Regions from separate parts of the Homo sapiens genome. Here region 1 is linked to region 2. The links come from fine-mapping of genetic effects on gene expression. A gene starts in region 2. The other region holds a variant in brackets. All regions are shown on one strand. Distances are from middle to middle.

Region 1 (12,352 bases), 32 kb after region 2:
TCCTGGCTCAATCGATCCTCCTGGATAAGCCTCCTCCGGGTACTATAGGTGTGCACCACCAAGCTCAGCTAATTATTTTTTAGAGATGGTTGTCTCTATATGTTGCCCAGGCAGGCCTTGAACGCCTGAGCTCAAGTGATCCGCCTGCCTTGGCCTCCCAAAGTGCTGGGATTACAGGCGTGAGCCACTGCGTCCGGCTATTTTATTTATTTATAGAGACAGTGTCTCACTTTGTTGCCCAGGCTGGAGTGCAGTGGTACGATCATAGACCACTGCAGCCTCAAACTCCTGGGCTCAAGTGATCCTCCTGCCTCAGCCTCCTAGAGCAGCTGGGACTACAGATGCACCCCACCATGCCTGACTAATTAAAAAAAAATTTTTTTTTAGAGATAGGGTCTTGCTATGTTGCCCTGGCTTAGTTTTCTTTATGTATGTTTTTTGGGGTTGGAGCTGTAGTGGAACCAGTCCCAGCCCCACTGGGCATCTGGGTCTGACCTTAGCTGCTCCACTAAGGGCTTAACAGGACACTGGCCACAGGCCTGCTCCCATCCAACTCCACTGGGGCCACAGGAGTGACCCTACCCAGGATGGAGTGAGGGCAGGCACAGACCAAACAGTGCAGGGTCGGGGGGTACTGTTCACTGGGACAAGAGATGAGGAAGATGCTGGATTTAAGTGGGCAATGAGGGTGCCTAGCAGAAGAGGGGACTCTTAACCTGGGTCTTGATGGATGAGTAGAAGTTCTCTGCATGGGAAGGGGTGGAGGTCATTTCAGGCAGAGGAGGAAGCATTAAACAGCATGGTGTATCTCAAGGAGAGCAGCTGGAGCATGAGTAAGGGGGGCTGGAGTAGGGGGCAGGGCATGATGTTGGGTCCTGTGGGCCTGGGTTAGCCCCAAGGCAGTCACTGGTCCTCCACTGACTGTGTGGTCCTCGCTTGGGCTCAGAGGGAAGGGGAGTGATATCCTGGGCTGGTGGGGTGGATAGCAGCCAACCCACCAAATGGTGGTCACGACCACTGCTGACAACAGTGTGCTGTGTGCTGGGCTGGGTGTCCACTCTGTCCTCCAGCATCTGAGGCTTGGGATCTCCCAGAAAGTCACACCAGGATGGGAGCCCAGGTCGTTTGAGCTGGGTGCTCTTGGCTGCTCACTTGCCTTCTTCCTGTCTAGGCCCCTTATAGGTTCACCTGGCACTGGGACTTGAAGTAGTTATGGCCTGAGGTCTCACTTACCTGGGCTGGCAGTTTTCTGAGTTCGTTCATCTCTACCCAGCCCCCGTGGGGCCTTGCGCTCAGTGGCTGTGTGCAGAATGAACCAGTGGAGAGAAAGGGCTGCACGTAGCGCTCAGGATCCTGGGGTTGGGTTTGTGGCTGAGTGGACCAGGGGCTGACTGAGTGGAGCCCGTGGCTCTGTCTCTCCCTGGGGTCCCACCTGGAAGCCCAAGGCCCTCAGAAAAGGGGTTTCCTTGCCTGTCATGGCCCTACCCTCCAAGCTGTGTCCTGGATCTTGGCAGTGTCCCCCTGAGCGCCCTGGCTCAGCCATCTCCTGCCTGACCGTAGCTGAGCCACGTGCCTTTGTCCTTTATTGCAGCTTCATGGCGGCTGAAGAGATGCATTGGCCTGTCCCTATGAAGGCCATTGGTGCCCAGAACCTGCTAACCATGCCTGGGGGCGTGGCCAAGGCTGGCTACCTGCACAAGAAGGGCGGTACCCAGCTGCAGCTGCTGAAATGTGAGTCCCTGGGGTGGTAGGGTGCACAGTAGGAGGGCATGGGGGCAGGGCTAGCCATGTAAGTAAGCATCCTCTCCAAGCCTCTGCTTCCTCACATGGTGTGCCCTCTGGATTTTCCCATTCCCTCTCTGGTGGCTGGCACCCCTGGAGAAGCAGAGGTTGACTTCCCTAGCCCCCAGGACTGTAGCAGGGTCCGGGGTGGTGCACAGTGCTGGCCAGCTGGCAAGGGGAGCTGCAGCCTGCAGCCAGGACCTGGGGACCACAGGTGGCCAGGTAGGTCTGGCCTCTGGTGCTGCCCTCACTGAATCCGTGAATGTTCAGTGAGTTAGTTGGTCACTTCGCCCACAGTGAACCTATGTGTCAAGTCCTGGCTGGGTGCTGGACCTCTGGAGCTGCACAAGACCCAGGCTCTGGCCCCCAGGACAGCTGGCTGGGAGGAAGAAGCAGCCCTCAGGCTTGAGAGATACCCAAATGCTGAGATACTGAAGGCCAAGAGCATCAGGGCCTGAGCAGCAGGTGCTCCATGCCTTTGCAGTAGCAGTGCCCTCTGCCAGGGACTCCCTGGTCCTGGGCCGCCTGGTTGAGATGTCCAGGCTGGACTGATTGGTTCCTGTACGGGCACTGGTTGAGCTGTTCTCCTCTTTGCACAGACAGCCTCCTTGGAGGAGCTGTAACTGGCTTGTCCCCCAGCCTGGGACAGGGCTGGGGCAGTGGAGCTAGGGTGGTTTCAGTGTAACTTTCCACCTAGGGGTGGCCCCACACCAGTGGCTCTCACTGGCAAACTCTCCGGGCTCCTGAGTCTCCCTCTTTTATTTTATTTTTTCGAGACAGGGTCTTGCTCTGTTGCCCAAGCTGGAGTGTAGTGGCGTGATCATGGCTCACTGCAGCCTCAACCTCCCAGGCTCAGGTGATCCCCTCAGCTGGGACTACAGGCATGCCACTATGCCCTGTTAATTTTTTTTTAAATTTCTTGTAGAGATGGAATTTCATTATGTTGCCCAGGCTGGCCTGGAGCTCCTGAGCTCAAGCGATCCATCCGCCTTGGTCTCCCAAAGTGCTGGGATTACAGGTGTGAGCCACCGCATCCAGCCTATTTTTTATTTATTTTTGTTTTTTATTTATTTATTTTTTTGAGATGGAGTCTTGCTCTGTTGCCCAGGCTGGAGTGCAGTGACTTGATCTCAGCTCACTGTAACGTCCACCTCCTGGGTTCCAGCAATTCTCCTGCCTCAGCCTCCTGAGTAGCTGGGATTACAGGAGTGTGCCACCACGCCCAGCTAATTTTTGTATTTTTAGTAGAGACAGCGTTTCACCATGTTGGTCAGCCTGGTCTCGAACTCCTGACTTCAAGTGATCCTGTCTTGGCCTCCTAAAGTTCTGGGATTACAGGCATGAGCCACCGCGCCTGGCCTATTTATTATTTTTATGTCTCACTCTGTCACCCAGACTGCAGTGCAGTGGGTGCGAACACAGCTCACTGCAGCCTCGACCTCCTGGGCTCAAATGATCCTCCCACCTCAGCCTCCCAAGTAGCTGGAACTACAGATGTATGCCACCGTGTCCGGCTAAGTTTTGTATTTTTTGTAGAGATGGGGTTTCACATGTTGCTCAGGCTCACCCCATCTTTTATTTTTAGAGACAGTCTCACTCTTGTCACCCAGGCTGGAGTGCAGTAGCACGATCTTGGCTCACTGCAACCTCTGACTCCCGGGTTCAAGCAATTCTCCTGCTTCAGCCTCCTGAGTAGCTGGGATCGCAGGCGTGAGCCACTGCACCCGGCCTTAGTCCCCCTCTTTTAGCTCTGGGGTAGTGGGAGCCTCCAACAGCCCTGCAGCACCCAGCAAGTCAGCTGTGGCCTCCCTGGGCCTCTGGTCCTGGCTCTGCCTTGCCTCATGCTGGCTCCACACAGCCCCCCAAATCTACCTCTTCTTTGTGGGCAGCCAGGCCTGCCCTCGGGTGGCACTCTGGGGCTAGCCAGTGTGCCTACAATTTTTTCCGTATTTGGCCCCAGAGTGGGCTCCTGGGGAGGGGGCAGCATGCCAGCCTTGCTCCCTGCTCTTCCATTTGGTAAGGCTTAGAGGCAGGAGGCCTGGCCCCAAGTTGTCCTGTGGAGGGTCCTCACAGTGGGTCTTGGCAGCTGCCCCTCCAGGCTCACCTTCCTGCCCTTGCCACCTCCCACAGGGCCCCTGCGCTTTGTCATCATCCACAAACGCTGCGTCTACTACTTCAAGAGTAGCACCTCTGCCTCCCCGCAGGGCGCCTTCTCCCTGAGTGGCTATAACCGGTAAGTGCCCGACCTGCCTGCTGACCTCGGGCCCCCACAGCCAGCGGGTCCCTCCCAGCAGAGCCCCAGCTGGGCCTGCCCCTTATTCCCGCCCAAGGAAAGTGCTTTCCCGAAGCAGCCTTCGTGCCCATCCCCTGTCCTCCCCGCCCAGCCTCCACAGTGCCTCGCCCTCTCCGCGTGTCCTGCCCTCAGGCGCAGGACCTTGGGGGTGCCAGGGTCTTCCTGTGGCTTTGTGCACAAGTCCCAGAGGCCTGGACAGCCTGCTCTCCAGAGTCTCCACTCGGCCACCACCCAGTGACTTCTGCATCTCTCCTCCCTCCCCACCTTGCCCCTTCACCCACCATGACCTCTTTCCAGGCAGCCCAGACCCCAGCCAGCCCAGGCCCTGTCCCAAACAGAGGCTGGGCCCTAGGATTCCCTGCTCCAGGGTCCTCCCAGGCCGGGATCAGTTTCCAGCTTCACGCATGTCCTGGGCTGGGCTCTATCCAGTGATGGGCCATGAGCTGCCCTGGAGGGCCTTCTGCACTAACAGGCAGGTGGGCGGTGGCCAGGTGGCATGTGGGTGGGGGAGTGCACTGGCACAGCCCATGGCCTGGGGCCCACACAAAGGGTTAATGCTGGCACCCAGCTCTGGTTCTGGTTGCTATCCCATCGGAGCCCTGCACCCCACAGCATTTATCTATGCCTCTTACCACCCCTTAAGGGCCCAGCCCCTCCTGCCTATGAGGAACCAAGGGTCACATGGTATCAGTAGTGGAACTGGGACCTTTGGAGTGACTCTAGGCCCCGGCCTGCACCCTGGCCACAGGCCTGGTAGGGCAGCCTTGCCAGAGCACCCAGCCTGGTGCCAGGCCCCCATGCTGGCACAGAGCTCCGGGGTCCCCTGGGGAAGGTCGTTCCCTTTCTGCAGACAGACACAGCGCCTTCCGGCCTCCAGCATGTGCCAGCCATGCCATGAACCCTGGGCCCAGTGGCAGATGCAATCATGCCCCAGGGAATTGTCTAGCCCATCAGGGAATGCTGGGCCTGAGGAGTTTTGGCCAGGCTCTTATGGGCCGTATAAGTGCACCTGCCCCGGTGCCTGGCTGGCAGGGCTCCCCACGTGATAAACTCAGCGCAAACCCCACATCCTGGCTGTGTGAGTGGGCCGCAGAGCAGGCACGAGTCATTCCCTGAAATGCACTCAGGGCTGCTGCTGGGCCTCAGGGGCACGGAGCCCTGTGGGGTACCCCAGGGAGGCCAAGCAGGCCTGGGCAAATGGGGCCAGAGGTGGGAGGGTGGCGTCCATGTAAAGTGGCATTGGCGGGCATCGAGGCAGGTTTGTCCTTGTCTCCTGTGCACTGCTGCTCCCACGAAGCCCACCCAGCACCCCTCTTCCATGCCCCTCCATGCCCCCTTACGCCTGCCTGGGCATGAAGCTCACTACTGGGAGCATCAGCAGCCAGGGCCCACCCGATCTGCCCTCTTCCGTTGGGGCGTGGTGCTGGTGCCGAGACGTGTTCACAGGGGGGTGCTGTGGGAAGGCCATCCCTATAGCTGTGAACCAGGCCGTGACCCCTGGCGCTGTGCCCCCAGGGTGATGCGGGCGGCTGAGGAGACCACGTCCAACAACGTTTTCCCCTTCAAGATCATCCATATCAGCAAGAAGCACCGCACGTGGTTCTTCTCGGCCTCCTCCGAGGAGGAGCGCAAGGTGACTGGGGGTCCGAGGACGAGTGCAAGGTGACTGGGGGTGTGGGCCTGCAGGCACCAGGCTGGACCTGCCTTGGGGGCTCGCTGGTCCTGGGGCGCTGGCCTCTCAGCCCCGGGCAAAGAGAAGGTGTGGCTGGGACACAGGCAGCTGGGTGGGTGCTGCCCCAGCTCCATCCCCATGCCCAGAGCCTGGTGCCAGCGCCCACACAAGGAACATGCTGTCCTGGGAGGTGCCCCTGTGGGCTGAGGGGAGCCACACAGCCATGTTGTATCCAGCCGGGTCGCCTCCTCTGACCTTGGGAGTCACAGCAGAGCAGGCAGGGCAGTGAAGGTGGAGGGGTGCGGTGGGGCCCACCCTGGTGGCACCGTGCCCACCACAGCCCCGCTGACCTGCAGAGCTGGATGGCCTTGCTGCGCAGGGAGATTGGCCACTTCCACGAAAAGAAAGACCTGCCCTTGGACACCAGGTGAGCCCGGGCCCAGGGCATACCGGGCAGTGAGGGTCCCTGGGGCGCCTGGGCCTGACCCGGGTGTCCGCCTCCCAGCCCCGGGCTTGGCATAGAATTCCGTCCTTAAAGGTTTCCTGGAGGTGCCAGCTGGGCTGCGTCTCTCTGCTCCTGTCTACAGATAAACACAGATACAGGACAAGCACAGATGTTCACACACAGACGAGCGACACGCGGACACGCACACACAAACACAAGCAACACGCGGACATGCACACACACAGAGCAACACGTGGACATGCGCACACACACAGAGCAACACGTGGACATGCACACACACACAGCAACACGTGGACATGCACACACACACAGCAACACGCAGACATGCACACACAAACACAGAGCAACACACAGACATGCACACACACACAGAGCATGCACAGGTGTGCATGCATCTCTCTGCTCCTGTCTACCTCCAGCCCCATCTGTCACATCTGTTTCTGTGTTGCCGCCATGGGTAGTTCCTGTTAGGGGATCATGTGTGTTTATACGCCTGCCACCAGGGAGGCCTGGCATGGCAGCAGCTGGGCACTTTGGGTTCCCAGCCCCCTACGCCCACCCTGGCTCACTCAGAGTGAGACCAGAATGATTCTCCTGGCGGGGCGCCACTGGGCAGTCTGAGCCTTGGCAGCCTCCCCCGTGAGCTGGCCCGACGTGCAGCAGATACTCTCTGGATTGGGACTTCCTGGCCCGAGACGATGTGGAGGGAACAAACCTTCCTGTCCTTTCACAGGTGGGGACAGGAGGCCCAGGGAGGGCTGGGCACAGCCAAGGCTGCCCTGCAGGTCCCTGCCTGACTCCGGGCTCCCGTCCCCTGGTCCAAGCTGTTCAGCCTCGGGCCCAGCCCAGAGTCGCCCAAGCCCTCTTGAGGCAGGAGCAGGTGGAGACGTGGGCACAGTCAGGGCGGCCATCCTTGTGGGCCAGAAGGGGCACCTAGTGGAGGCACCACAGCCTCCAGTTCTTCTGTCTGTCCTTGTAACTGTGTGTGCATGTCCGCGTGTTGCTCCGTGTGTGTGCATGTCCGCGTGTTGCTCTGTGTGTGTGCATGTCCGCGTGTTGCTCTGTGTGTGTGTGTGCAATGTCCACGTGTTGCTCTGTGTTTGTGTGTGCATGTCTGCGTGTTGCTCTGTGTTTGTGTGTGCATGTCCGCGTGTTGCTCTGTGTGTGTGCATGTCCACGTGTTGCTCTGTGTTTGTGTGTGCATGTCCGCGTGTTGCTCTGTGTGTGTGCATGTCCGCGTGTTGCTGTTTGTGTGTGCATGTCTGCGTGTTGCTCTGTGTGTGTGTGCATGTCCGCGTGTTGCTCTGTGTGTGTGTGTGTGCATGTCTGCATGTTGCTCTGTGTGTGTGTGCATGTCTGTGTGTTGCTCTGTGTTTGTGTGTGCATGTCTGCGTGTTGCTCTGTGTGTGTGTGCATGTCCACGTGTTGCTCTGTGTGTGTGCATGTCCTCATGTTGCTCTGTGTGTGTGTGCATGTCCGCATGTTGCTCTGTGTGTGTGCATGTCCGCGTGTTGCTTGTGTTTGTGTGTGCGTGTCCGTGTGTCGCTCGTCTGTGTGTGAACATGTGTGCTTGTCCTGTATCTGTGTTTATCTGTATACTTCCATGTCTGTGTGACAGAGTCCTTGTGTCTGTGTGTCTACATGTCTGCGCGTGTCCCTGTGTCTTTGTGTATATATATCCATGCCTGTGTGCCTGTGTTCCTGCGTGTGCTTGTGTGTGCACGTGTGCATTTGTGTGTTTGTCAGAGTATGTGTGCATGTGTGTGTCTGTCAGCGTATCCATGTGTGCATGTGTGTGTCTGTCAGCG[T/G]ATCCGTGTGTGCATGTGTGTGTCTGTCAGCTTAACCATGTGTGCATGTGTTTGTCAGTGTATCCGTGTGTGCATCTGTGTATCTGTCCATGTATCCGCGTGTGCCTGTGTGTACCTTTGTGTGAGCATCAAGGGACCTCCCAGGCCTGGTGCTCACCGTCCGCCCCAACGCACCCTGCATTGCAGCGACTCCAGCTCGGACACAGACAGCTTCTACGGCGCAGTTGAGCGGCCTGTGGATATCAGCCTTTCCCCGTACCCCACGGACAATGAAGGTGAGGTCTTTCTCCGCATCCACTGCCCGTTTGCCTCTCCCCACCTGGCCTCCTCTTGGCCGCTGTGGAGGAGAGGGAGGTGTGTTCGGCTGTGCTCCTTGCTCTGGCCCTTTGGCAGTGCGCAGTAGCATCCCTGGGCTCTGGCCTTCAGCGGCAGGGTCTGGACTCACAGTCCTCCCAGCAGGTGCTTGCCCCTTGCCTCCTGGACTCAGCCCCATGCATGGAGCATTGCTCGGAGACTGGGCCTGGGCCGGTTTGGCTCTCACCACCCCCCTCTCCCCATGCAGACTATGAGCACGACGATGAGGATGACTCCTACCTGGAGCCTGACTCCCCGGAGCCCGGAAGGCTTGAGGGTAGGTGGGGCGGGTGGGCCCGGGGAGCTCTGGGTGTGTAGGAAGCAGGGGCTGGGACCGGGAGCAGAGCCCCTCCGAGGCTGGGGATGCTGGCCCAGGTACCGCTCTGGGTGGCTTCCGCTTCCCTGCTGTGTCCCAAGTATTATGAGGATTGGAGCAGAAGAGGTGTAGCTGCTGCCACCTCTGCTCATTTCCTCCTCCCACCTCCCAGGAGGAGGGACAGGCACATGGCGATAAGTGGCAGGTGGAGCCGGGGTGGCCCTGGGGGTTAAGCATGGGGAAGGAAGGACGCTGAGGAGCGCGCAGGCTCAGGGCAGGTCCATGTCCCCATGGCTGCCAGCTTGTGTGGACACTGCTGCAGGCCAGGTCGTTGTCCCACCCCACCCCATCCCATCCCAGTGTCCACCTACCTCCTGCAGCACATGGCCTAGTCAAAGAGACAGGCTGATACAGGTGGTCACACGTGGATGACGGAAGCACGAGCTGGGTGGGGAGGACGTGTCTCTGTCCTCCTCTGTCGCCTCCCTCCCTTCCTCCCTCCCTATTGTCTCTCCAGCCCCCTCATCTTGTCAATTTCCTCATGTCTGGGGCTGATCCTTGATCCTTCCATTTTCCCTGCGTCCGCCCTGCCTCCTTGTTTTCCAGCCTCCTGTTCTCACTGACTTGGCCTCTGCCGACCCCAGCCCCTGACCCCGTATCCTCTCTGCCTCCCATCCACTCCCACCTTCAGGCTCCCGGGTCCAGCCCCTCTTCTCCTGCCGCTCCCTCCCTCCTTCCCTCTGGGGTCCCAGTGCCAACAGTCCTTCAGCCCACGAGGGTCTGCGGGCCGCTTGCCTCAGTTTCCTTCCATGCAGAGCTCTTGTCTCACAGTGTTCACCATGCCTGTCCCTTCGCCCACACACTACTGCCTTCCGTCTTAGCCTGGCTGGCCAAGCCTTGGTGAACTCAGACTCCGTCTGCCCAGCCCTGAGCTGCAGCCCAGTGAGGCTAGAGATGGGCCTGGGGAGCCACCAGTGCTCCTGCATGCTACTGCTCCACTCACCCTCCCTCTGTACCCCCTTCATCCTCTCCCCGAGACATTTCTCGTCCAGGACGCCTGTGGCCTCCCCATTCCCAGTTCCAGCGCTCAGTCCTGAGCCACACCAGCCTGGCGCCTGCCCTGTTCCTTGCCAGCCCGTCCTCCAGGCGCCCCGTGCTCCCGGGGTCCTCTTTCTCCTCAGCTCCTGTGCTGGCCCCATGAGGGATACCCGGGACTCAGACCTCACTCCTCTCCCGAATTCCCTGGGTGACAGCCTGGGTCATCTGCAGGCTGCCCGCTCCGAGTCATGTCCAGCCTGGATTTTTGAACTCTGCACACATTCCCTGACCCCGCATCCCCTGGCATCTCCCAGCTTTCTGGATATGTTCTGAGCAAACACGGGCCTTCACCTTCCTCCCAGCTGCTCCCCTCCCCTGTCCTTGGGAATTCCGTCCTCCCTCTCGCTCCAGCCGAGCCCTGAGATCCTTCTTGACTTCTCTTCCTTTCTCTTCCTTCCACCTCTGGGAACCTGATGGGCTCCTCAGGTGTCCTCTAGGCTTCAGGAAGCGTCCACAGGCTGCCATAGGGAGGATGAATGGGGAAGGCTGGGGGTGGTGGGTGGTCTGGGACCCTGGGGAAGGCAGGATGGGAGTGCTGGGTGCTGGGCTGCTGGGTGGGCAGGCTGTGGGGTGGGCCTACCATGGGTTGCACTCCTGGTTGGCCTGGCTGACCACTGCCAGCAGAGGATAGTGTTGGCCCAGTCTCTGTCAGGGTCCAACCCGGGTCTCTTTGCTCTGCAGATGCCCTGATGCACCCACCGGCTTACCCACCACCCCCAGTGCCCACGCCCAGGAAGCCAGCCTTCTCTGACATGCCCCGGGCCCACTCCTTTACCTCCAAGGGCCCCGGTCCCCTACTGCCACCCCCGCCCCCTAAGCACGGCCTCCCAGATGTTGGCCTGGCTGCTGAGGACTCCAAGAGGGACCCACTGTGCCCGAGGCGGGCTGAGCCTTGCCCCAGGGTACCTGCTACCCCCCGAAGGATGAGCGATCCCCCTCTGAGCACCATGCCCACCGCACCCGGCCTCCGGAAACCCCCTTGCTTCCGGGAGAGTGCCAGCCCCAGCCCGGAGCCCTGGACCCCTGGCCACGGGGCCTGCTCCACTTCCAGTGCTGCCATCATGGCCACTGCCACCTCCAGAAACTGTGACAAACTCAAGTCCTTCCACCTGTCCCCCCGAGGACCACCCACATCTGAGCCCCCACCTGTGCCAGCCAACAAGCCCAAGTTCCTGAAGATAGCTGAAGAGGACCCCCCAAGGGAGGCAGCCATGCCCGGACTCTTTGTGCCCCCCGTGGCTCCCCGGCCTCCTGCGCTGAAGCTGCCAGTGCCTGAGGCCATGGCGCGGCCCGCAGTCCTGCCCAGGCCAGAGAAGCCGCAGCTCCCGCACCTCCAGTGAGTTTGTGTGGCGGCTGCAAGCCCTGCCTCCAGCTACAGGGACCCTGGCCTGGCCTCTGACGGGCACTCTGCCCACCTCGCTCCCCTGGCACTCTTAGCCCACGACGGGGTACCAGGTGCAAGGGTAGGAAGGTTCCCGGTTGCCTCCAGTCCGCCTTGGTGGAACGTGGAGCATGTCCATGACTCAGCCCTGAAGCTTGCTGGAAATGCTTTGTTTTTTTTTCTTTTTGAGACAGGGTCTCACGCTGGCAACCAAGCTGGAGTGCAGTGGTGCGATCTCAGCTCACTGCAACCTCCACCTCCGGGGTTCAGGTGATTCTCCTGCCTCAGCCTCCCAAGTAGCTGGGACTACAGGCACCTGCCAACACGCCCGGCTAATTTTTGTATTTTTAGTAGAGACAGGGGTTTCACTATGTTGGCCAGGTTGGTCTTGAACTCCTGGTCTCAAGTGATCCGCCTGCCTCGGCCTCTCAAAGTGTAGAGATTACGGGCGTGAGCCACCGCGTCCTGCTGAAATGCTTTCTGCTTTATTTCTGGGAAGTGCCAGGAGACCAGTTTGTCCCCCACTCCCACAGAGTTACGCCAATGGCTGTGGTCAAAGGCATCTGGGACCCCAGGTGGGCTTCCTGCCTTGCCTGGCAGGCAAAGGGTCCAGGAACTGGAGGGGCAGGTTTCGCATGGGTGTGCTGGCCGGCACGCGCACCCCCGAATGCCCTTGCCCACGGTGCCCTTCTCCCAGGGCTCTGCGAACACCTCTGAGATGCCTGCTGCCTGTGTGGAAGTGCCTCTGAGCAGCCCTTGTCACACTCGTGGTTCTAGTTCACCAAGGGCTGCAGAGATGCAGATGTTCGGAAGTCACGTTTTTCCATGACTGTGGGGATAGCGGTTCCAGGGCTCAGCCTCACCCACAGGCTGGCCTCCCATGCTGGCGTGGCCCGTTAATCCTCCCTAGAGCCTTTGAGGCTTTGCTGAGCAGGACCGGCTAGCCACACAGGGAGGCGTGCAGGGACGCCATGGGCGTCCTTTGGGGTCACACTGCATTGTTCATCCAGTTCACGTCCACTCCCCTGTGGCTCTGAGTGGGCTGTGATTTGGCCATGACCGGACCTCCCCTCCCCACGAGCATCCAGAGCACTTGTTGACGGTGTGATGACACTGAGCTTGGGAACCCTGGACTCCCTTGCCAGCATCCATGGCAGCCCTGACCCCTGACTCCGGTGTCGG
Region 2 (12,352 bases):
TGACAGGAGAGGGGGTGTTTTGGAGGGAGGCGGGTGGGGCACGCTGTTGTGTACAAACACCCACCTCCCACGGCACAGGGGCCGGAAGTGGCCCCAGAATAGAATGTGCTGCTTTCAAGTTCCAAATTGGGCTCTGGGGGTGAGAGCAGGCGACTCTGGATGTAAAAATAGAAAAGCCAGTGCGTGCGTGGGTCCTGGGTCCTCCACCCACAGGCCTGGTATTACAAAATAGAGCTTCCTAATGGGACCTGCCTGACACTCTCGTTTTATGTAGAAAATTGACTCAAGCAAACCTCAGAGGACAGAGCCAGCAGCTGACCTGGGCTAGAGGTGTGGCAGCCAGGCAGGCAGGGCAGGCCCTCCTGGGGAGTGCTGGTGGCCTGGGGGCGCTGGCTGGCCCTTGACCTGGCGTGAACTCTGGCTCTATTTCCCTCACTCTGCCCTCTAGCGCTGTGCCCCTGCCAGGAGAGTCCTCCCAGGTTGTGGGAGCCCAGCTCAGTCCTACTGTCCCCAAAGAGCCTTCGCCGACTTCGTCAGCCTTTACCAGCTCTCAGGCTGGCCAGGAAGCCAGGCCTGTCCCAGGCACGAGGGGCAGTGGGCAAGCTGGCTGTGGGCCCCACCCTCCACAGGCTCACTGAGGGCAGCTGGCCAGAAGCCCACAGGCTGGGGCCACCCACTGAGGATGTTTTCTGAGCAGGGCCCCGTGTTGGACCATCCTGGGGACCAGAGCCACTGGAAGAGCCCTGACCTCAAGGCGCCCCAGCCTAGGGGGTGGGATGGGGTGGTGAGGAAGGCTAGTTCTGGGCAGTGTGGTGGGATGTAGGTGCACATCTGGGCATGACTGTGGGGGTCTGGGGAGGTCCCCTGGGGTAATGCTACTGAGCTGGCTTTCCCGGGATGACGCTGGAGGGCAGTGGAGGCAGAGGGGAGGCCAGTGTGCAGGGCACTCTGGCGTGGGGTCTGGCTGAGACCTGAGCGGGCCTCCATGCTTCCACCCCTCAACCAGCACACACGTCCTACCATCCCACCCAACCTCCACTGCTCCCCCTCCAGCCCCAGGCTGCTCCTTTCCCCTTCATTCGGTAAAGGAGAAAATATTCCCCATCCCACCCAGGGCAAGGCGTGAGGCAGCCAGGCCTGGCCTGGGATGCAGAGATGGCCCAGAGCCTGGGAGGGGCCACTCCTGTCCAGCCTGCCCTCCCTGCCAGAGTGCCTGCCACCAGCCCAGCCTCCTGGGAGAGATGCCAGCCCCCAGCCCTGTCCTCAGAGCCAGACTGATGCCTGCGTGTGAGGCCCAGCCTGCCTCCTCAAACTCCTCTTCCCATGAGCCACAATCCTCCCCCACACCCCCTCTGCCCCTCCCTCCAGTGCTGGGCTGTGTGGCCAGGGGACTGGACTGTGTGGCAGGATGACTCCACACAGCCTCCCCCAGGGAGTGGGGATTGGGGGAGGTAGGGTGGGAACCTGTCCCCTCCTATCCCCAGGGAAGCAGGTGGGAAGCCTGTGGCCTTGGCCCTACTCAGGAATTGCCTCTCCTAGCGAGGCGGCCTGGTGAGGTGGTACACTGTATCACTGTGGGGCCACTCCTGGGGACAGGGACAGGTGGGAGGGCAGGGTCCATGCTTCCAAGGTCCTCTGGACACGGGACCCAGGTGGCAGCTCCAAAACCTGGCTAGGATGGGCACAGTGGCTCATGCCAGTAATCCCAGCACTTTGGGAGCTGAGGTGGGTGGATCGTTTGAGCCCAGTAGTTCGAGACCAGTCTGGGCAACATGGTGAGACGCTATTTCTACAAAAAAATAAAAAATATAAATAAATAAAAATTAGTTGGGTGTGGTGGCACATGCCTATAGTCCCAGCTGAGGTGGGAGGCTCACCTGAGCCCAGGAGGTTGAGGCTGCAGTGCCACTGCACTCCAGCCTGGGCAACAGAGTGAGACCCTATCTCAAAACAAAAGAACAAAAACAAAACCTACCTAGCCCCTTCCTTGGGGCTGCCCCTTGAGGCCTTTGTCTGTTCATTCACCAATCATGCACTGGGAGTCTATTTTGTAACTCAGGTGCCCTGGAAGCAGAGCCCAGACCAAGGGAAGCGAGGGGTCCAGGCACACCCGCCAAGGGTGATCTAGGGGCAGGAATGGCAAGTGCAAAGGCCCTGAGGTGGGAATGTGTCTGCGGTGCTGGAGGAGACAGGAGGCCAGTGTGGCCAATGCTAAGCGGGGCTATGGAGAGAGAACTCAGGGAGCAGGCAGGTGGCACAGGCTCGGTCTGGGCCCTGCCCATGCAAGGATAGAAGGCATTTGCCTTGGGGGAGGTGGGATCTACAGAAAGTTCTGAGTGAAGAAGTGACATGACCTGACTCACACTGTGACTGCACCCCTCTGGTGTGATGATGGACACTGCCAGGCAAGCGCAGGAGAGGGAGGATGAGGCAGGCAGGGGCTGAGAAAGGCAGGATTCCAGGTGTGCTTTGCCAACAGAACCTTCAGGGCGGACGGGATGTGGGGCGAGCAGAGAGGCATCAGTGCGGACGACTCCAGGGTTGCTGGCCCAGGGAAGGAAAAAGAGACTTGGCAGGCGCATGAAGCCCCCTGCTGGGACGCCTGTGACACGTAGACCAGCGGCAGATCTTGCCCTCGCCATCCTAACCGTCAGCCTCACCCTCAGCAGGTCCTGCCCTACCCCCCAGACAGCAGCTGCCTCTGCCTGTTCTGGGTCCTGCCAAATCAGTGGCATGGCCGATGGCACACGGGGGATGGGTGTGGCGGGGGACCGGCCCCCTTCTCTTTGGCCTTATTCTGTGGGTGTGATTGGGGCATCACCATGGGCTTCTACCCCGGATGTGCCCTGTGGAGGTCTGCTCCCCAGCTCCCTGCCGGCCAGGGGTCCTCGCCTTACCTCTGCTCACCTGCCCTGCATACCCTCCCAGCAGGCGAGGTCATCCTCCTCACCCATCCCTGCTCTGTCAGCCTCAGCGGAACCCCTGGGTGCCCAGAGGCTCTGGCCACAGCCTCCAGCAGCTTCTTGCTCGGAGGGGCTGCTGGGAGCTGCCCTGAGGCCCCAACTAGGAGTTCCTTCCTCCCACGCCCTGGGGTTGGACTGGTAAGGGGGGAGAAGGGGAGGAATATGAGGTGTGGGATTCTCCCCACGGTGGAGGCTGCACCCTGTTCCCCCTGTTTGGCTGAGGTGCCCTGCACAGAGGTGCTTTGCATTTCTGGGTGATCATTCTCTAGGCGCCTGGTCCGTCCACACTGTCTGCAGTGACCCTGCTCCGTCAACTCTGAGCTTGGCATCTGAGGCCAGCCCTGTACACCCTGCCCTGTAGTCAGGCCCTGGCGGGGCCGCACCGACGTTTGGCTTTGCTCCACTCCCCTCCCGGTCTCTGCCCCTTTCCCCAGCTGGTCCCCTGGGAACAGGACACTTGCTGTGACCCAATGGCATCTGCTCATTTGTCCATTTGCTCCTCTCGTGAGCCACAAGGGTAGGGACTTCCTTGTATCATCTTGGGTCCCCGGGGTCTGGTGTGGGGCCAGGCATTTATTTAGCTGAACTGGACATCAGGGACATCAAGATGTACAGCCCCAAGGTCATGAGTGTTTTGTCAGGAGCCTTAGACCAGTCTGGCCCAGCCTGGAGCTCCCTCCGCATGTGGCCTCTTACAGGAGTGACGCAGCCCCATGCGGTGCTAACAGTGGCAGCACTGAACGTCGGATGGGGCTGAGCCCAGCCACTTCCACAATGGCTGTAGTTCCTATCTCTTCCTCCCTGCTAGGAAAATGTGAAATAGCCCAGAGTGGGGGGTGGGCAGAAGAGTTGCAGGCTACCCAATGCTGGGATGAGCAGAGTTGAGACCTGGGGAGCCAGGCCCAGGACACTTACAGGTGGGGATGTGAGCAGGCACCCCAGAGAGTGAGCACCCCAGCCAGCCAGCACCCATCTACTCCCTCACTGGGGTCTAAGTTCAGCCCCGAGAGCTAGGCTGTAGGTGGGTAGAGTCACAGCCCCAGCGCCGGTGTGAGGGGTGGCCCTGGGCCAGGTAGAGTGAGTATCTGCCTGCTGTCATGCCCCATCCACTTCTGCCGCCTCCCCAGTAGAGGACCCCCTCCATTTCACAGATGGGGAAAAGGGGCCCTGTTGTCTGAAGACTCTCCCATATCCTCCCCTGCCTCTGCCATCCCCTGCTTTGTCCCTTCCCTTCCAGAGGCCCTGCCTTGGTCCTGGTCACTTCCTGGTAGGCACTGGCTCTTCCTCTATGCCTGGGCTCAGGGCCTGGCCACCTAGTTTTCTGACTCCTCCCACTTACTCCCCTCCCCAGTTAACCTCTCTGATCCCAAGTGTGTCTCTCCAGCAGGGAGGAGGGCTATTGCAGCCAGGGATCCCCTTTCTGAGGCTTGGGACCCATTATTGGGCAGCTCTGGGACAGGTGGACGGTGACTTGGCCCACACTCGGTCCAGCTGCAACCCTGAGAACCCGCTTGGTTTGGCTGTGTCTCCTGGAGGCCCTCAGGTATTTCAACCTGTAGGACCCAAACCCAGTCCTTCACCTGCTGCAGGGCCAGCCCTGGACACCCCTGCCCCTGCCTGATTTGGAGCAGCCAATTCAGCCCCTGTCATTGGACTCTGGCCTCTTGTGCTCAGTACAGAGGGTCAGACCTTGGCCGCCTGCCTGGACAGGGCCAGGTCACCACCACCCACCCCCAGCTCCCTTGGGTTCCCAGCAAGATCCTGTCCTTCCTCTACTCACAGCTTCCTGGGCTCTGGGACCTGGGGTCCAGTCCCCACTCCTCATGGGGAGGAGTCCCCCCACGCCCCAAGCAGTTGACTCCCGCACTGGTGGGGGGTCCGCTCGCCCTCAAGCTCTGCAGGCCCAGCTTGGTCTCCCCAGCCTCTTCACTTTCTCCACGGCTCCCTCCACCTACCTGGCCCTGAGAGCTCCCCAGGGAAGCCATTTCCTCCCAGGAAGCCCCTCCTCTTCTCGCCCCTGCCCTTACACCAAGGCATCTGGGCCTACTCTTAGGGAGAGGGTGATGGTGGAGGAAAGGGAGCCTCAGAGGAGGCCAAGTGTAAAGCACCCGGTCTCCTGTGCCTCCCAGCCCCAAGACGACCTCTGGGCCACCGGAGTCCAGACCTGGTCCAAGAGGCGAGGTCCCCCTGGGAAGTGCCTGAAAAGTACCCTGGAGGACATTTGGAAACAAAGACAAGGTTTCCTGGTGCCCAGCAAGCCCTCCCCCACCTCCCCTGCTCCTGTCTTGGCCAGGGCCTAAGTCGCACTCACGGGGCAGGGGTGGGGCCGCCCAGGATCAGGACCACGGGGCTGGGGGGGTGGACAGCGCCCTTTCCACCTGGGTCGCTGGGCACTGGGGTGTCACTGGGAGGGACACGCAGGAGGGACAGACACGCTACCTCACTCACGGGCGAGAACTAAGCACCTACTGTGGACCCGGCGTCTAGGCCCGCGACAACGCCAGTCTTCGCCCCCCAGGGGCCTCGTCCCGGGGCCGCGGAGGCCACGTGCAGTTCCCCGCCCACCCTGAGGTACCGGCCCCGCCCCACGCCCAGCTCGGACCTCCAGGATTGCGGGACCCGCCGGGGAGGGGCGGGGCCGGGGCGGGGCCAGGAGGAGGGCGGACTGGGCGGGCGCGGGCGGGACGGAGCTGCGGCGGCGGCGGGTCCCGCGGGCGGGAGCGCCTGGCGGCCGAGTCAAGCCGCCGCCTCGACCCAGGGCCCGCGGGCCAGGAGAGCGCTCGGCGGGTAAGCCTCGGCGGCGGGTCTCGGCGGGTCTCGGGGGTCTCGCGGGGGGGCGGTCTCCGCGTCTGGAAGGGGCTCGGCGGGCCTTGGCGGTCTGGGGGCTCTCGGCGGGTCTCGGGGGTCTCGGGGGAGTCTCGGGGTCCCGACAGGTCTCGGCGGGTCTCGGGGGTCTCGGGGGAGTCTCCGGGGAGTCTCAGGGGTCCCGGCAGGTCTTGGCAGGTCTCGGGGGAGTCTCAGGGTCCCGGCAGGTATGGGCGGGTGTCGGGGGTCTCGGGTGCGCAGCAGCCTCCCCCGGGCCCCGGGGCCTCCGTGTCCTTGCCAAAGGACGCACGGGGCCTGGGCACGGCGGGCAGTGCCCGAGGGAGCGCGGCTTCGGGGCGGGGGCCGGGTGTCCCTTGCCGGGGGCTCAGGGGTGGGAGGCGGTGCGACGCGTCTGTTTCGCACCCCTCGCGCCCCTCTGGCCCCGCGGCGGGGCCCCTTTACGCGACCCTCCCCACAAGACTCAAAGGCTGCGGCGGGCACTCGCTCTCCGCCCTTCCCGGAATCCAAACTTCCCTCTGCAGCGGCCGCGCTTCACGGAGGGCAAGAAAAGCCGCCCACTGGCGCTGATTCACACTGAAGTGTGAGTGACTGATAGCCGGGCGTCTGAGACTCTCATGGGCAACAGGGAATCTCAGGGGTGGCAGAGGGACTGGAGGAGTTAGGGGGCGGGGACAGCCCCTTCCACCTGTACGCTGGCCTCCCTGCAGCCCAGCACTTTCCCGCTGCTCTGGGCCTCGGCTCCCTGGGGGTATTGAGGGCCTGAGCCCTGCTGTGGGGAGCCTTCTGCTGGTGCTCCTTTCCGTGAGCACCTCCTATCCCCTCTCTGTGCCTCAGTTTGCTCATCTGTTGACACTGGGGACAGCTGTGCCTCCTGGTCTAGTGGCCACACTTAAGTCCTTCGAATTGGCTGTGGCCAGGGGCGGGTACTCCGTGTGGGCTGCTGGGGTGGACAGCCTGCCTGGATGACATGTGTGTGGCCTTGCAGGTGACATGGGCCGGTGATGCAATGTGTAGAATTGTTTCCACAACCGCCTGAAGGCAGGGCCCACAGCCTCCTCCTTGCCGAAGCAAGCCTCTGGGTTCAGGTCAGCCCTGCACCAACTCCATGAGCCTGGACAAGCTCCTGCCCTCACTGGCTCAGGCCCTGTGGGACCAGAGGAGGGGCTGGGCTCCACCCCCTCCTGGTTCTTCCCACTCTGTCCACTGTCTCCTCTACGTAGACACCGTCGAAGGGCCCTCTTGGAGCCCAACCTCAGGGCCCCACTCCAGGCACTCCACTCCTGGCAGGACAGGAGGCCTGGGACGAGGGCTGCAAGGGAGTGAGGATTCTGTCTATCCCCTCTCCCTGCCACCCGCCAGGCTCCCTTTGCCTGGCTCTGTGCCCTGCGTTAGGCACACCCTGGAGGGGGCAGGCAGAAGGAAGACAGATAGGCAGCCGTGTCTAGGAACTGCCAGCCAGGGCCATCTGGTGAGAGGGGTGCTGACAGGGGACCTGGCCTTTCAGGGAGTCCCCAGGCCTCCAGGATCATGGGGGAGCCCACCAAGGAGGCTGGCCTGAAGAGGCAGACAGAGGGAGGACAGGCTCTGGGCCTGCCTTGGCCCTTTCTGCCCACATGGACAGAGGAAGCAGGGTGCTGAGTCAGCTGGAGCTCCCCACCCCCCAGGGATGCACGCACACAAGCAGGCCCACAGACGGGAAGTCCAGGGGCCCAGAGAGACGAGATGGCCAGCCTTGGTTCCTGAGGGGCAGGGAGGAAGGGCGCAAACTCAGCCAGGATCTTGGGTGTGAACTCAGATGCCACCAGTTTCCAGCTGTGTGATCATGGCCAGGAGGCTTCCCCCTGCCACCCCTCCGTTTTCTCATCCATGACCTGAGGGCTGTGAAGCACTTTGTACCTGGTGGGTGGCTATGAGTGTCCGTAGGGGGGATGGTGGTGGTGGTGACATGTGCTTGGTATTCAGTGACAGTGGGTCGCTGAGGGTGCTCTCCCTGGTCCTCAGGGCCGCTGTATGTCCTGTTTTGGGTGGGGGCAGGGACTGGCCTGGAGAGGCCTGGGTAAAGGCCAAGGCTCCCAGGTTCCTGCCCACATTGGACTAAGGCCTGAGTCCATCAGGAGTGGCCAGTGTTGGGCAGCCCCTGGGTCTTCCTGCGTTCTGTCCTCAAAAGCTCCCTTGTGGGGACACCCCAGGTCAGTGACTATGTGTGGCAGGCTCTGCCCTCCTCACTCTCTGTCCTCTCTTGACCTCATGATCTGCCCACCTCCCAAAGTGCTGGGATTACAGGCGTGAGCCCCCACGCCTGGCAGAGTATATAGTTCTTTAATAACCGGGTGGCTTGGCCATCACTGTGCAGCCTGGGTGGGTGAGGAGAAGGGCAGGCTGGCGGGGAAAAGACGGGGAATTTGCCACAAGGTGAGAGCTGTCCTACCCCAGACGCAGTGGAGCGGCTCCCACCCCTCGGGCCAATGAATACAGGGTGGGCCGTCAGGAGGAGGGATCTGAGCCGGGCGGGCAGCCATGCAGGTACAGACAGACTAAGCCAAAGGCGGGCGGTAGGGAGGGTGGGAGACCAGTTTGACGGGAGTGGCCTTTGCATGCCAGGTGTGGTGAGGGTATGGAGGGGCCTGGGAGGCAAGGAGAAGGGGCCGTGCAGACCCTGGAATCCTTCCTCCAGGATAGGCGGCTCCTCCCCAGAAGGCCTCTGCATTCTTCTGGTGGCCCTGTCTGGACACCGAGGGGCTGGAGACAGTCCCACGTGTGGGCTGCCTAAGTCCCAGAGGGGGTGGTAGGGAGCATTTCAGGCTCACTGGCTGGCCCCCTTCCCTGGGGCACTGGACCCTCCTCACCACCCCTTGGCCTGTGCACGGGAGGGTAGACAGGATGGTGCCAAGAGCAAGGGACTGGCCCTCAGCCACGGGCCAGGAGACCTGAGCCTTGTAGGCGAATTGCACTTCCTGACCCTCAGTTTCCTGATCTGCAAAACGGGATGACAGAAGTCCCTGGCTCTGGACCACGCTGCTGGATTTGGGTTCCGTGCCGGGCCCCTGACTACACTCATCCTTCAAGGGTGACGCGAGAGAAGCACGTGCCCAGGTTCGGGGCGGGTGGAGACCTGGGTCAGACAGGAGTTCGAGGTGGTGCAGGCTCCCAGGAGGGGAGAAAGGTGCCCTCCCCCAACCTTCTCTCTTCTCCCCAGGCTCTGTAACTTCCAAGGCCATGAGAGTGGTCAGGCCCTGCTTGGTTTCCCGGCCCCCGATCACAGATCGTGCTGGAACTGCTGGCCCCAACGCCCTGAGGTGACTGGCCCTTTCTTCATGGATTCCGGTCACATCTGGTCCATCTTTGTCAGCTGGCCTCTGGGAAGAATGTGGGCTCGGCCACCTGGAGCAGTTGCCTGGGGAGATCAGAGGAGCCCTGAGGGGTTGGCAGAGCGCCCTCGTGGTATCCATACCCCCATCCCTGTAGCTGAGCTGATTCCAAGAAGTGCCCTCTGCTTCCTTGTGAATCAGATGTTTACTGCGCTCCTGCTGAGCCTGCTCCAGGCAGCTGGGTGGGGCGTAGGGTGCCTGTCTGCTCAAGCCTGCAGAGGGAGGCCAGCTCCCCACCCCAGGGTCAGCCAGGCTGGCAGGCAACAGCCTCAAGAAGGCAGTGTGCGTGCCATGGCACACGGGGCTGAGGCCGCGAGGCAGGGGCCGAGGGAAGCGGCACAGAGCTTCTCTCAGGCACCAGAGGGGAGCTGAGTTCTGGGCTCAGAGCAGGCTTCGTCTGAGGGCTTCAGCGTCCTCCTTGTGAAATGGGGTGAAAGTAGGTCTAACTCATGGGAGGCCAGATCCCCAGGCCCGAGCTAGGGCCTCCCTGCCCTTGACACTGTGTGAATGGGCAGCTCCGTTTGGGGGAGTTCCTTCAGCCTCGATCCAGGGGTGTTGTAATCTAGTGATGCTCTTCTGTGGCATTTGAGGGTCCTGGGTCCCCATGCCCTGCAGCCCTGTCCACTGTCCTGAGCTAGGCATAGGGGTGGGCCCTTGCTGCTGGCTGCCCCTGGACAAGGTGGGAAGGGATCAGGGGTCATTCTGGGAGCCTGGAATGCTGGGCGGTCCTTGGCTTTTTCTCAGCCTTGGGAGTCTGGGGCAGTGGTGCGCCTTTACCACCCACCCTGGTTTCTGCCTCTGGGGCAGTGGTGGACCTCCTTCAGAAGGCTGCTGCCCAGCCCCGGGCCCCACTCATGCAACACTGGGTGCCTGTGTACTGGGCCCTGGGCTAGGCATGCACTGCAAGAGCAGACAGGCCACAGGTCAGAGGGCAGGACCGCTGGCAGGTGCCCATGGGTAGCAGCTCACCTGCCTGGCCCACCTTGCCACTCTCTCCCTTAGAAGCAATTTCAGCTGAAGACATAAGTGTCTGTCCTGCTTGGTGCTCAGGGTACCCTCCCTGGCCACCCCCAACTCCACCCTGAGCTGGGTGCCTTCCTGAGCCCCCAGCCTGGTCTATGGCCACCATGCATGTTGACCCATCCATGGTGACCTGTCCGCCTGCCCCTCCTGCTTGGGAACTCAGGAAGGTCAGGGTCGCGTCTGAGAGCCCATGCCCTGGTGGTGCCCACGTGGGCCTGTCCCAGAGGAAGGGTGAGGGGAGTGCCGGCTCTCCCAGCCTCCCACTCCTGGGCAGGGAAGTGGCGCGGGCAACGGGCGGGCTGTGCCAAGCTCTTTGAAGGTGGCTTGTCACTCCCCCCACCTGTGTTTAACTCTACTGAGCATCAGAGCCTAATGTGCCAGTCAGCCTGGCAGCTGCCGCCCAGTTGGTGGAGTTTCCAATCAGATAATATCAGACTGTTGTGCTTTGGTCTCCCACGAAACTCTTCAGGTTTCCATCACAGCCTCCTCCCTTCCCCCTGCGGGCTGCGCTGTGACAGCCACCGCTGCCTGCCACCCGGCAGCAGGGACCCAGCTGCTTCTGGGCCTGGTCTCGGTGGCCCTGGCAGCGGTAGATAGGGAGGACCAAAGCCTGGTGAGGAAGAGCCGCCGAGCGGAGTCGGTGTCCCCTGTCCTCTCCCTGAACGAAAGTGCTTTCTTTCTCTGTAGCTGCTCTTCCTAAACGTGTGTTGGCTTGAGATTGGAGTTAGCCTGGCCTACCTGTGCCACCAGGGCTTTGGGTCCCAAAGAGCTGGCACCTGAGGCAAGTCCAAGCAAAAGGCCGGATTTCTCACCATTAGGAGGGCAATGGGGAAAGATCCAGAAAAGCTGGCCTGGGAGCCCTGAGTGGCAGGTGGGGGTACACAGCCCTGCATGGAGACCAGGCTCAGAGCCAGAGGAGGCAGGCCAGGAAACTCGGCACTCATCTCCTCTCTCGGAAACGCCCCTCCCTGACCCCAGCTGCTTCCTCTCCTCCTACTCGAGGCCAGAAAGGGAAGCCCCTTTCCAGTGGGGTGAGTGGCTGGCGCTGCCCGAGGCGGTCCGCTGATGGCTGGGCAGATAGTGCTGGGGCCTGGCCTGGCAGGCAGATCAGTGGTCAGCAGAGTGAGTTTGACCAGGGCAGAGGGGAAGATGACGGGGGTGCATCCCCCGAGCTGGGGGAAGTGACTTCCCGTTGCCATCACCTCTTGTGGCCTCAGGCGTTCCCAGGCTGAGACCTCTAGGAACACAGGTGCTGGGTGGCTCAGGTGGCTCCACCAGGCCAGGCCGTGTGACCTGGGCATCCTCCGCCTTCTCTGGGCAGGGCAGGGACAGGAAGTGCAGCCTCATGGGATGCGTGAGGGTGAGGGTGTGCCCATCCAGCTGCTGGGGCGGGGTGTGTGGGAGTGGCCCCCCAGGAGCTGCACGCAGCACGGGGCCTGGGAAACTCCAAAGCCGGCGTCAGGTCATCGAGGCCTCCGGGCTGATTAGGACTAATGGCGCTCAGGGGTGCAGCCTCAGCCTCCACCCGCCACCCGTACCCGCCCTGCCTCAGGACTTCGTTCCTGCTGTACCCCTGCTGGCTGCCTGTCCCCACAGGTGGCTCCTTCCTCCCCACCGGAGGAGCTGCTCCCAGGCGGGACCCTGGGGGTGGAATCTCTGAAATGCCTTCCCCTCGGGACCCTCACCGCGACTGGACTTCGCTCAGCTTCAGACCCTGGGCTGCAGCTGCCTAATGAGGTGGGATGGGGCCCTGGGTGTGTAAAGTGGAGGGAGGGGCAGTGGCCACCTCTGAGCCCTGAGCCATCCTGGGGTCCTGGGTGCTGGCTTCAGGAAGGTTTGCTACTTGGGGCAGGGGCTCTCTGAGATCAACCTTCCCATTTTCTTGAGGATGTGACCAGGAGGGTGATGTTTTGTGGTCGGGGTGGCTGTGCCTGCCTCTGGGGCAGGAAGTTGCTGGGGAAGGAAGAAGATTGAGAAAGGACCCCCAACCCCCACCTCTGCAGAGGATCTAGCGGGCCTTGCCCCATGCCAGGGTTCCTGCCGGCTGGCATCAAGGGGACAGCTATTCCAGGGCTGGTGTCCTGAGAAGCAGGGGGGACCCACTTGGGACCCAGGCCCCCTCGAAGACCTACCCAGAGCCACCCTTGCGGCAGGCAGGGTCCTGGCCCTTCC

Evidence for each region.
Region 1: its variant is fine-mapped to the expression of SH3BP2 in whole blood (TOPMed, PIP above 0.99).

What each region holds. Positions count from the first base shown.
Region 1 is chr4:2,819,023-2,831,374 of GRCh38, forward strand. SH3BP2 (SH3 domain binding protein 2) reads left to right here. Exons shown (of 13, transcript NM_001122681.2): 2 at 1,592-1,731; 3 at 3,913-4,015; 4 at 5,591-5,708; 5 at 6,104-6,174; 6 at 8,208-8,296; 7 at 8,584-8,652; 8 at 10,471-11,125. The coding sequence starts at 1,596. Among named protein-coding and RNA genes, the nearest start is that of ADD1, 19 kb to the right of the region's middle. RefSeq lists enhancers at 1,066-1,567, 6,927-7,813, 7,814-8,699. The variant T/G (reference allele first, on the strand shown) is at 8,022.
Region 2 is chr4:2,787,389-2,799,740 of GRCh38, forward strand. SH3BP2 (SH3 domain binding protein 2) reads left to right here and starts at 5,697. Exons shown (of 13, transcript NM_001122681.2): 1 at 5,697-5,750. RefSeq lists enhancers at 61-370, 494-1,128, 711-770, 11,118-11,457 and a silencer at 5,415-5,764.